3 linked regions of the Homo sapiens genome follow. The protein of the gene in region 1 purifies or fractionates together with the protein of each later gene. This does not show direct contact. Each region holds a gene or a part of one and is shown in the gene's direction. Other genes may lie near its edges.

What was found.
Region 2: the proteins of ELAC2 (region 1) and EIF2D fractionate together in Homo sapiens (co-fractionation; one large-scale study listed by BioGRID). This does not show direct contact.
Region 3: the proteins of ELAC2 (region 1) and PFKP fractionate together in Homo sapiens (co-fractionation; one large-scale study listed by BioGRID). This does not show direct contact.

Annotation. Positions count from the first base shown.
Region 1 is NC_000017.11:12,993,940-12,997,587, reverse strand, and holds part of ELAC2 (zinc phosphodiesterase ELAC protein 2), read left to right. Parts: intron 1-902; coding exon 903-1,041; intron 1,042-1,609; coding exon 1,610-1,648; intron 1,649-1,775; coding exon 1,776-1,885; intron 1,886-2,525; coding exon 2,526-2,625; intron 2,626-2,703; coding exon 2,704-2,824; intron 2,825-3,084; coding exon 3,085-3,163; intron 3,164-3,648. UniProt on the Homo sapiens protein: Zinc phosphodiesterase, which displays mitochondrial tRNA 3'-processing endonuclease activity. Involved in tRNA maturation, by removing a 3'-trailer from precursor tRNA.
Region 2 is NC_000001.11:206,602,358-206,606,005, reverse strand, and holds part of EIF2D (eukaryotic translation initiation factor 2D), read left to right. Parts: intron 1-498; coding exon 499-606; intron 607-2,801; coding exon 2,802-3,055; intron 3,056-3,552; coding exon 3,553-3,648. UniProt on the Homo sapiens protein: Translation initiation factor that is able to deliver tRNA to the P-site of the eukaryotic ribosome in a GTP-independent manner.
Region 3 is NC_000010.11:3,070,476-3,074,123, forward strand, and holds part of PFKP (ATP-dependent 6-phosphofructokinase, platelet type), read left to right. Parts: intron 1-3,648. UniProt on the Homo sapiens protein: Catalyzes the phosphorylation of D-fructose 6-phosphate to fructose 1,6-bisphosphate by ATP, the first committing step of glycolysis.

The DNA of each region.
Region 1 (3,648 bases):
GCCGGCCTCTCCCGGGGGCTGAGATCCTGGGGGAAGAAGGGCTTTTTGAGTTTGACCTGACACCCTGCGAGCAGCTTTTGAACCAGCTGAAGCTAATGGGAAGGTGCTATTGCCACCTTGCCTCCGCCTCCCGACTCCTTTTTCCCCCAGAAGGTAATGTCTTAGCACCGGGGCTTCTCTCTGCAAAATGGGTGCAGCCCTCTCAGTGTTCGTGGCTCCTCCCAGAGAATGAAGGAGGCCAGAGCGGGTCAGCACTCTCTCTGCCTTGGAGCAGAGCTTCTGAAATGGACTGCACAGCAGAATAGCCCAAGAAGTTTGTCAGAATCCAGACTTCCAGAGCCCTGCCTAAAACCAAGTCAGAAACCCCGAGTGACACCTGGGAGTCTGCGTTAACTGGCTCCCTGAATGAAGCACCTGCAGCCCGCCCTGCACCAGGTGTCTTTGAGGACATGAGCTGAGGAAACCCCGACCACTTGCAAAGGGGGAAAAGTCCGATGGCAGCTGGACCTAGAAAGAGTCTCATATGGCCCAGTGCCTGTCCTGGTATTTTCAACAGAGGCTGTGGCCACAGTCAATCTGCATGGTCAGATTCATTGTTAGGACTAAATGCTTTAAGCCTCCTATAAACTTTTTTTTTTTTTTTTTGATGCCCAGCCTTTGTGTAAGTCTACTTGAAAGGGTTTCAGGGTTCCATGGATACTTCTTTGCTATAAAGAGGATGACACATGTAAAATCACCTTTATGGTTAAATTAATTGGCTTTTATATTAGCTCCTCAAAGCAAAGCAGGAGAGACAGAAATTTCTGCAGTTGCTTCTTGGTCCTGTCCAAAGCAGACATCAGCCTCTGAACCATCAGCAGTCTTCCTAGTGGCAGTGACTCTCTTCCTCTTCTCTTCTGCAGCCCCGACACGTCTCTGCTACTGGACTGTGGTGAGGGCACATTTGGGCAGCTGTGCCGTCATTACGGAGACCAGGTGGACAGGGTCCTGGGCACCCTGGCTGCTGTGTTTGTGTCCCACCTGCACGCAGATCACCACACGGTGAGTGTTGGGCTGGACCACAAAGCTGGAGCCTGGAGGAGGCACTGCCACGTTGAGTTGGCCCTTTGGCTGCGTCTTTTCCTCCGCTTCCAAACTTGCCCAGAGCTTTTGTTACTCATCTCTGGCTAGGAAATGGTTTTTTGCAAAACTCAACATAGTCCTTCTGCGCCACAAGAATGTCTTCTCTTCCTGTTCAGTTCCTTTCCTGCAGCAGGACAGGTTTGAGTTTACCCAGCCTTCCTTGAGTCTTGAATCTCACACGGCCTGCTCAGCGGAAGCTTTGACCGGATGCAGGAGGTGTGGCTATGAGACCCTCACCTTGGTCTCCTGGGGTGCCGGGCCCTGGGCCGTTGCCCTCTTCCCAGCACGGGTCGTGTCGCTTTCTGCCTGTGACATTTCAGGGCCATGGCGCAGGGGGCTCGGCCTGTGCCACCCCCACTGCGGCTGTGTTAGAGGCTGGTGGGTGACGTCGGGCTGGCAACTCCTGCAAGAGAGAGGGCTGCAGACCCTAACCCGGAGGGGATGGCCCTGGGGCCTGGCTGACGCATGTCTCCTGTTTCCTTGCCAGGGCTTGCCAAGTATCTTGCTGCAGAGAGAACGCGCCTTGGTAAGTGTGGCACTTGATGGGCGTTCTGAGTTTCAGCGGTTTACACATCATCCGCCATGCCTCTTGGCACTCCAGTTTTTATTGAGATGTTCTGTCGTCGAGTCGGCACTTGCATTTTTTGTTCCAGGCATCTTTGGGAAAGCCGCTTCACCCTTTGCTGGTGGTTGCCCCCAACCAGCTCAAAGCCTGGCTCCAGCAGTACCACAACCAGTGCCAGGAGGTCCTGCACCACATCAGGTGAGCATCCAGGGCAGCCTGGCCCGCTGGGCTGTTGCTTGCTGCCGTCTCCTTCAGAAGCTCAAGGTGGACACTGGGGTAGTTACCAATATCCCCCAGCAGCCTTGCCCTTGACATGGTCCCAGATGGCAGAAGCAGGGGAGAAGTGCATTGGCTGAAGGACAGAAACCATTAGATAGTTCCCATGTAATGCTTATTTTCTTAGAAGCATTTCTTCCCAGTCCTCATTTGAGTTCTGAGCTGCTTTCTAAACTTCGAGCAGCTTTTCTTGATGAGACAGTTCCAGAGCCAAGCACCCAAATAGTGGCTAGCACAGAGAATGTCCATAGCAGGTGTGTGGCTAGCTGGCAGGTGGCACCATCCTCACCCCAAGGGGAAGGAGTCCCCTCTGCTGGAGCCATCCGTGGCCCGTGCTGCCTGAGCCGGAGGCAGCATTCACCTGCTGGGTTTCTCCCAGTGGCCTAGAGGCTTTGGTTTGGCTCTTTATATTTGACTGCTGTTTCCTCATCATAGTGACTATGATTTAACTCATGTTTTCTCCTAAGAATGATTTTGGGGTTCTCCAGCCAAAGACTTAAACTTTGGTTCCAGATGTCCAAGAAACGTTTATTATCATTTTAAATGTTTTGTCTTTTTACAGTATGATTCCTGCCAAATGCCTTCAGGAAGGGGCTGAGATCTCCAGTCCTGCAGTGGAAAGATTGATCAGTTCGCTGTTGCGAACATGTGATTTGGAAGAGGTAAGGGGCACAGCCGCAGGCATCATGGGGGCGAGGTGGGGAGCAGAGCTGCAGAGCCCTCCAGCCCCACCCTTTCAGTTTCAGACCTGTCTGGTGCGGCACTGCAAGCATGCGTTTGGCTGTGCGCTGGTGCACACCTCTGGCTGGAAAGTGGTCTATTCCGGGGACACCATGCCCTGCGAGGCTCTGGTCCGGATGGGTGAGTAGAGGAAGAAGCAAGCCACCCTGAGGTTGCTCTGGGGTTTGTGTAGCTGGAGGTGAATGCAGGTGGGCTTGCAGGGAAACGTCAGCAGAGGCAGGAGACTCAGGTCCCCACCCTCAGAGTCTCTGGTTGTCATCCTAGTAGGCAGACCCAGGGCCAGGGGAGCTGAGTGTTGAGACCAGGAAACAGCACGTGACTGAGGCCTGTGTGCCGCTCTCGCAGAGAACTCTGCCCTGATCCTTGTGCTGCTTCTCCAGGGAAAGATGCCACCCTCCTGATACATGAAGCCACCCTGGAAGATGGTTTGGAAGAGGAAGCAGTGGAAAAGACACACAGGTAGCAAAGGCCGGTCAGTCCTTGTCGCCCACATCCTCTCCCTCCCCCACTACGTGACACTGAGCAGCCGTCGTTTGTCTCCACTGATGTGGGGCTGCCCTGCTTCCTATCAAGGGCTATGGGGGCTTCCTTGACCTGTGGCAGTGCTCACAGGCTCTTGGCCTTTATTTTTGCAGAATTTTCTAAGCAAGATTCTAGAGTGAGGCACAGTTTTTTGAAAGCATCTAGAAATCGGCTGAATAAACTATAAGCCATGTCAGGGAATTGCCAGGGGAAGGCGGGGGCTGGGGGACTGAATTTTTGGCTGCTAATTTCAACGAAAGAGTGCATTACCCCAGGTGGGCCCTGTGGTTTCTCTTGGGTGCCCTCATGGACAGATTTGGCAGCCAGCACAGAGGGTGGGCTTCATCCAGGGGTGTGTGCGAAGGCTCTGGCCCTCAGGGGAGATTGTGCTGGCTACGGAGGTGCCCGTTAAGAAAACCCAC
Region 2 (3,648 bases), on another chromosome or scaffold:
GTCAACTTAGAAGGAACTTCTCTAGTTGGCCCCACTATGTGTCTCTTCTCTCTTCCCTATGGCATCCCTCAGCCTAATTTATGATATATGAATTGCCTCCCCTTTAAACTTCCTTATGGGATGGCTATGACTTCTTTAAGGTAGAGGAGATAATTTATATTTTTGAAATTAATGAAAGGGAACATTAAATATCCTTCCAAGACCCACCTGGAGATTTAATTCACAGCAGGAATAAAACAAAGGCAGTGATAAAGTCAATAGAGGAGTTACTAATACAGAAGTTTAGTGTTTAGTTTAATATTTGGTCAAGGGATTTTTGAAAGTAATATTTGTACATAATCTGAAGAAAACTGAGAGTGGACTGAGTTTGGTTTTATGATACAAGACCTTCGAATTGGTAACCTTGGTATTTTTACCACATGTGTCAGAAGATGATCCTAACATGTGCCCTTCCCATAGATTTTCCATGACCCTGGTCTCTGGCTTCCTTCTTCTTAGAGCCCCTGTAGCCATTGGAGTTGCAGCCATGTCCACAGCTGAGATGCTCACGTCAGGCCTGAAGGGAAGGGGCTTCTCTGTGCTCCACACTTACCAGGACCACTTGTGGTGGGTACAGAGTTTCTTCTGTTTTACAGAGAACCGGGGCAGCTGGGGAGAGGATGGGGCCTGTGATTCAGGAGTGAGAGTTTTGGTCCTAGCCATGTCTTTAAGCAAGTTGCTAAGCCCAGACTTTTATTTCCTTACAAATATAAAGAAAATATTTTTTTCCCCTGTTTGGACAAGTAATGAGAGAGAACTTTATTTTCTAAGTGAATTATAGAATCTTAGACCCAAAGGAAGACCTTAGGGATCATCTGCTCTGCCTCTCAGTACAGTGATACTCGTTTTTTTATAGCCCTGGTCAATCTGGCCCTAGCTGCGATGCACATTTTAGACATCATGTGACCCCATGATGAGTGCTTCTGAATCCTAATCACTGCAGGGTAGACCTTTAGACTCCAGGATTATAACCTGATTACTTTTATGTTATTCAGATTTCACATTCCAGACTCCTCCTCCTCATGAAAGTAACGCATTCTGACTGTAAAGGTTGCATTCTTGAGACGCGTACCTGTTCATTTTCTGGTTATTTTCTTGTCATTTTAGCAAAACAGTAAGCAGTGATTTTCTCAAAGCACACATTTAGCCAAGTATTGTGGCCTGTTGGTATAGATTCATTCTTATATTTTCCAGCCCAGTCTTGGAATTATTAATTTTTTTTTTTTTTTTTTTTGAGATGGAGTCTCGCTCTGTCGCCCAGGTTGGAGTGCAGTGGCGTGATCTCAGCTCACTGCAAGCTCCACCTCCCGGTTCACTCCATTCTCCTGCCTCAGCCTCCTGAGTAGCTGGGACCACAGGTACCTCCCACCACGCCCGGCTAATTTTTTGTATTTTTAGTAGAGACGGGGTTTCACCATGTTAGCCAGGATGGTCTCGATCCATTGACCTTGTGATCCACCCACCTCGGCCTCCCAAAGTGCTGGGATTACAGGTGTGAGCCACTGCGCCCAGCCTTTTTTTTTGAGATGGAGTTTTGCTCTTGTTGCCCAGGCTGGAGTGCAGTGGCGCAATCTCAGCTCACTGCAACCTCTGCCTCTCGGTTCAAGTGATTCTCCTACCTCAGCCTCCCGAGTAGCTGGGATTACAGGCTTGTGCCCAAAACATCCGGCTAATTTTTTTGTTTTTAGTAGAGACAGGGTTTCACCGTGTTGGCCAGGCTAGTCTCGAACTCCTAACCTCACGTGATCTGCCCATCTAGGCCTCCCAAAGTGCTGAGATTACAGGCGTGAGCCACCGCTCCCCGCCGGACTTACTGATTTTACAAGTACTTGCCAAGTCCTCCTTTGCTGGTACAAGCTCATTTTTGCCTGTTTTTAGATATTTGAGGGCTGATGACTGATGTTCTCCTAGCACCTTGTTGTTTAACTATCAGTCTGGGCAACAGCAATCAAGGTCAGGTTGTCTAAGTTGTTTTAGCAGCAGCTGCTTTGGTTCTCTCGCTGCACCTTGAAAAAAATATTTATGGTATTTACCTGATCAGAATAGCCTAAACATACCCTTTGGCTTTACTGTGAACAACACTGAGAAGCCTTGCCGTAACTATTAGTTAAAACTTAGTTTGATTTGCATAATGTTGGCTAAGATAAAGTTTTTTACTGCTTTGTGTGCTTTGCTATGTGGCATCGCCTGTTTTCCTGTCTTCCTAAGGCTTAGTGGCATAAAACCATGGCAATCTCTGCTTTCCACGTTAGACTGCATTTGATGTAACACAGAAGCCACTGATTTTGCAGTCCTTGAGCAGTCCAGGTGTTTGTGTTTTATTACATATGCTGAGCCGTGGGTTTGCATTTCACCAAACAGATATTACAGATGCATTCGCGATCTTAATGTTCATATTTAATTCAAATTGGTTTTGTTATTAACTCAGATGAAGGGAACATTTTTGGGAGTTTATCTTAAACTCCTTTTTCTTTAATCTTTCTCAGTCTTGGGATGTCTATTAATAGTATTATTCTTTTGGGATAGGGAGGAGACAAGATTTATTCTCCCCATTTCAGAGATGAAGAAACTGAGGCATGGAACTTTTAGGGGCCCAGAATTGAAAGTACGCTTGAGATGAGGGCACAGGCTCTCTGCCCCCTCCTGGCCACTCCTGCCTGTTGGCTCTCTGCTGTCTCTGACCTCACTGCTGACTCCTCTGTGGCCAGGGCTGGAGAGTATTGGAGCTGCTGCTTGATGTTTCTGACATGAGATTTTTCCAGGCGGTCTGGAAACAAGTCCTCTCCACCTTCCATTGCTCCACTGGCCCTGGATTCAGCAGATCTCAGTGAAGAGAAGGGGTCTGTCCAGATGGACTCCACCCTGCAGGGAGACATGAGGCACATGACCCTGGAGGGGGAAGAGGAGAATGGGGAGGTTCACCAGGCACGTGAAGACAAGTCTCTCTCAGAAGCCCCAGAAGACACCAGCACCAGGGGCCTGAACCAAGACTCCACAGATAGCAAAACGCTTCAAGGTATAACTCTAGGAGGAGAAGAGCCCATCTCCCCACCTCTCAATTTAGGAGCCTGACGAACTCCACTCCACTGCTGACTAGAATGGCCCTTAAGCTTCCGGGGGAGGAGGGGAAGGTCCTTATTTTCTGTGAGGGTGGCGCAGCAGCCCTTTCACATCTTGTTTTTGAATCCTTTCCACATAAGTCACGTCTTCCTGGGAGCTAATCTGCCCTGGCATTTGCCTGTCTTCAGCTACAAAGCCCTCCAAGGTTTCTTCTGGCTCAACTTCTCTGGGTGAACACTCCTAGCTTGGTGGGACTTTGTGGCTTGACTCCTTCTCTGGGGTCAACCCTCTTTAAAGGCTCAGTGCTCAAGAGAGGCTGGGAGCTTTGGTACCTGGGAATGGGTTCCTTTCAGAGCCAAGTGGGTGAGGTAGGGATGAAGCTGGGGGTCGTTTTCTTGTACCAGGTGTTCTGTATCCCTCAGGAAGGATGTGGCTCTTGTCTTTTCCCTGCAGAACAAATGGATGAGCTGTTACAGCAATGCTTCTTACATGCCTTGAAGTGCCGAGTCAAAAAGGCTGACCTCCCTTTACTCACCAGCACTTTCCTTG
Region 3 (3,648 bases), on another chromosome or scaffold:
TTTCTGTCAGATGTGAAATTATGGTAAAATTCCGTATATTAAGATGATCATAGCTACCATTTGTTGAAAACATTTTGTATTCTAAGAGCTTTACACTTCTTATCTCCAAGCCTAAATACATGATCCCAAGAGAGGCGTGTCCTCATTTTGGAAGTGGGGAGAAAGACTCAGAAAGAAAAGTAAGTTAGGTAAGGGCATGAGGTGCATACGTGATTGTGATAGGAGCAAAACAGATCTTAATTCCAAATATTGTACTCTCCCGTAGACCACGAAGAGTACTTATGTCTGGCTGTGTCACCCAGGCCAGAGTGTAGTGGTGCCATCATAGCTCACTGCAGCCTCAAACTCCTGGGCTCAAGTGATCCTCCTGCCTCAACCTTCTGAGTAGCTGGGAAGACAGGAATGCACCATCATGACCAGCTAATTATTATTATTATTATTATTATTATTTTTGTAGAGACAGGATCTCACTATGCTGCCGAGACTGGCCTTGAACTCCTGGCCTCCTGTAGTGATCCTCCTGCCTTGGCCTCCCAAAGAGCTGGGACTACAGACATGAGCCATTGTGTCAGGCCTCCACCATCTCCACCATGTTTTTCAGGGACCTTTCTTGGTGAAGCTGCTTTATCTAGTTAATGCTCAAAAGTGAGCAAAACCCGATTTGCCCAAAATTACACAGATATTCTTTGGGTGGCTTTGTTAGGGGAACGGAAAATGCCTTTTTATAGTGATAGGAGTCCAGGTGGCAAGAACGATATTATGTGATGGGCTGCTTTTTCTTCTCTCAGTAGAGTGTATATTATTTAATTATAAGATACAATTGAAAATCTCTTTCTCTTTTCTATATTCCCGACTCCCCGGGCCTTGAATGAAGAAAGTATTTCTCAGGCTGTTTTTGTTTGTTTGTTTGTTTGTTTTTTCTACTTGCTTGGATATCTTCTGTCTCAGGCTGTTTTTTTTTTTTTTTTTTTTTTCTTTCTCTTCTTCTGCCTCTTTATGTATCTTCTGTTGTCCCAAGACATGTCTGGAAACTTAAATTGATTTTCACTCAATCTGAAATAAGCTCCATAACTCTGAATGGCGGACTTACCATGACTAAGTCCCCACTGCCACAGAACACTGTGCCACACACCAAGAGTGACTCATTGTCTTAGTCACAGGTTGTGGCTTCTGAAGGTCCTGGTGCCTGGTGGAGCTGAGTGTACTGGGAAGTCCAGGTGCATCCTTAGGGTAGGCTGCATGTGAAAGCTGCGTCCTTTTTGCCTGTGGTGAGGTGAATATCAATACAGTATTTATAGAAAGTCCACATAAATTGAGTAAGTACAAACCTTTCCAATCCTAGTGAGAATAACTAGCATTAATGACTCTTTGTTATGTGGCAGGGCCTCAGTGATCCTGGGCAATGACTTATCCCTATTTTACACATGAGCAAGGGGCGCCTGAGTTGCACCACCTTCCCTGAGTTCACAGAGCTCCGTGGTGGGGCCGGGCCCTGTGGCTGCAGCAGGGATGTTCAGGGCTGCGCGTACCTGCGTCTTCACTGGTGTCTTTCCCGCGCCCAGCACCATGCCTGGCGCTTCGCAGGAATGCAAGTGTTTGCTGCCTGCCTCCTGCCTGGAATCTCCACTGAGGAGCAGGAAACCAGGGGTTCTAGCTGTCTTCTTCGTCCATGAAGTCCTTTAGAGGAATTCAACCCTCTCTAATTAAAAGTATCCAATATCCTCAGGTCAATATGTGTAAACTGTTAAGACTTCAAGATTAGAACCTTAAAACCGAAGTCAGAAGTGTGAGGTTTCCATTGGCTGGACGTGCATTAGGTCAATGACACACATATTTATTGGACACCAGGCTTGAGCCCCACATGGGCACCTTTGGTGTCTGAAGCAATGCTGGCTTCGGAGCCCAGTAGGGTGGAAGGGGAAACTGAGAACAGCGCCATTTTGCCTCCCACGGCTCTGGGCCCGTTACCTTCCTGTGTACATACATTATTTGATGGGATCTTTTCAGTGTAAAGTGCAGTAATTAATTTTGCAAAAATTACTGGGTCTGGGAGGCAGTGTGTTGGAATGATGGTGTCACCATGTGGCACAGTGGGAGATTTGTGTAATGGCATCATTTTCTGTGAATGCAGACCGTTTTGTGTGCCATACTCGAATGACCCTTCGAAGCTAGACATTTTGTCATCTTTCGAAAGAAGCATGTTTTCCCCCTTGGTTACAGAAAGCTAAAAGCTTTTGATACAGGACTCCAACCTTTTATCAGGGAGAATTAGGCTCTTTAAATAATTAGGGCTCTACCAATCTGATGGGCCATCAGAAGCAATTAAAATTAGAAAGGTGAAGATACGGTAACGTAGTCAGGACAAACATCAGGATACCAGATTGCACGTTCACAATGGCATTTCGGCTAAGAAAGTGCGGGTGAATATAGAACAGAGGGCCGTATGTCAGTAATTGGGTTCCGTTTTGTGTTTCTTTTCCACAAGCCCTTTCTGGTGTTGTGTTTTTGTTTATTAGAGAGTAGCTGCCCAAAGGCTACAGTTTCCCTCCCCACTCCTCGGTTCTCTCCGTCTTCACCCCCAACTCCCAGTCCTGTGTTTGGAATTACAGTCATTGTGCTTGTCAGGATGTAAGAGGCAGCCAGACACATGGCAGACCAGAGCACTGAGAGGCAGAGACATTTATAGGTCCTAGCCCTGGTCCTGCTGTCTGGGTCAGCAGGGTGCTGAGTGCTGAGTGCTGAGATAGGGTCTTGATGTTTTCCTCTGCAGAATGGAGGCATCACTCAGTCTCTGTCTCCTCTCCCTGTCTCTGTCTTCCCTCCCCTCTTCCCTAACACATATCCACAGTGAAAGTGTTCAGGAGGAAAAGAGAATAGGCTGGACTGTGCTGGGACCCCCAACCCCAGGGCCCGTGTGCTATTTTCCCAGCCTCCGTGTGCCCAGAGATGCCTAGGGGAGCCTGCGGAGGTGTAGATCCTGACTGTGTGGGTCTGAGTGAGGCTCCGACTCTCACGGGGAGGGCACCGGTGCTGCTGGACCCCCTGGGGCCAGTGGAGCGGTTTGCAAATCGGGCAGATCAGCTTCTCCACTTCTCCAGGTTTCCCCAATGTGAGATGCTCCCAGGAGTCCCATGGGATTGTTTTCTGACTTTGACCAGGATTTTGACAGAGAAGATTCATTAATATAGGACCCCTTGTCTAAACGTACATATGTAAATGATCTGATCCGAAGTTTCCTGAATGGAAAATGATTGAAAGGGTGGCATGCAGTAGCCTCGGGGAGTCAGTCCTTCATATCTTTTCAGCTGTGTCTTACTACGATTAAGATTTTATTTCTGTGTGTGTGTGTGTTTTTTTTGTTTGTTTGTTTGTTTGTTTTTGAGACGGGATCTTGCCCTCTTGCCCAGCCTGGAGTGCAGTGGCTTGATGTCGGCTCACTGCAACCTCCGCCTCCTGAGTTCAAGCGATTTTCCTGTCCCAGCCTCCCAAGTAGCTGGGATTACAGGCATGCGCCACCATGCTCACCTGATCTTTTTTGTATCGTTAGTAGAGATGGGTTTCACCGTGTTGGTCAGGCTGGTCTCGAACTCCTGACCTCAAGTGATCCACCTGCCTTGGCCTCCCAAAGTGCTGGTATTACAGGCTGGA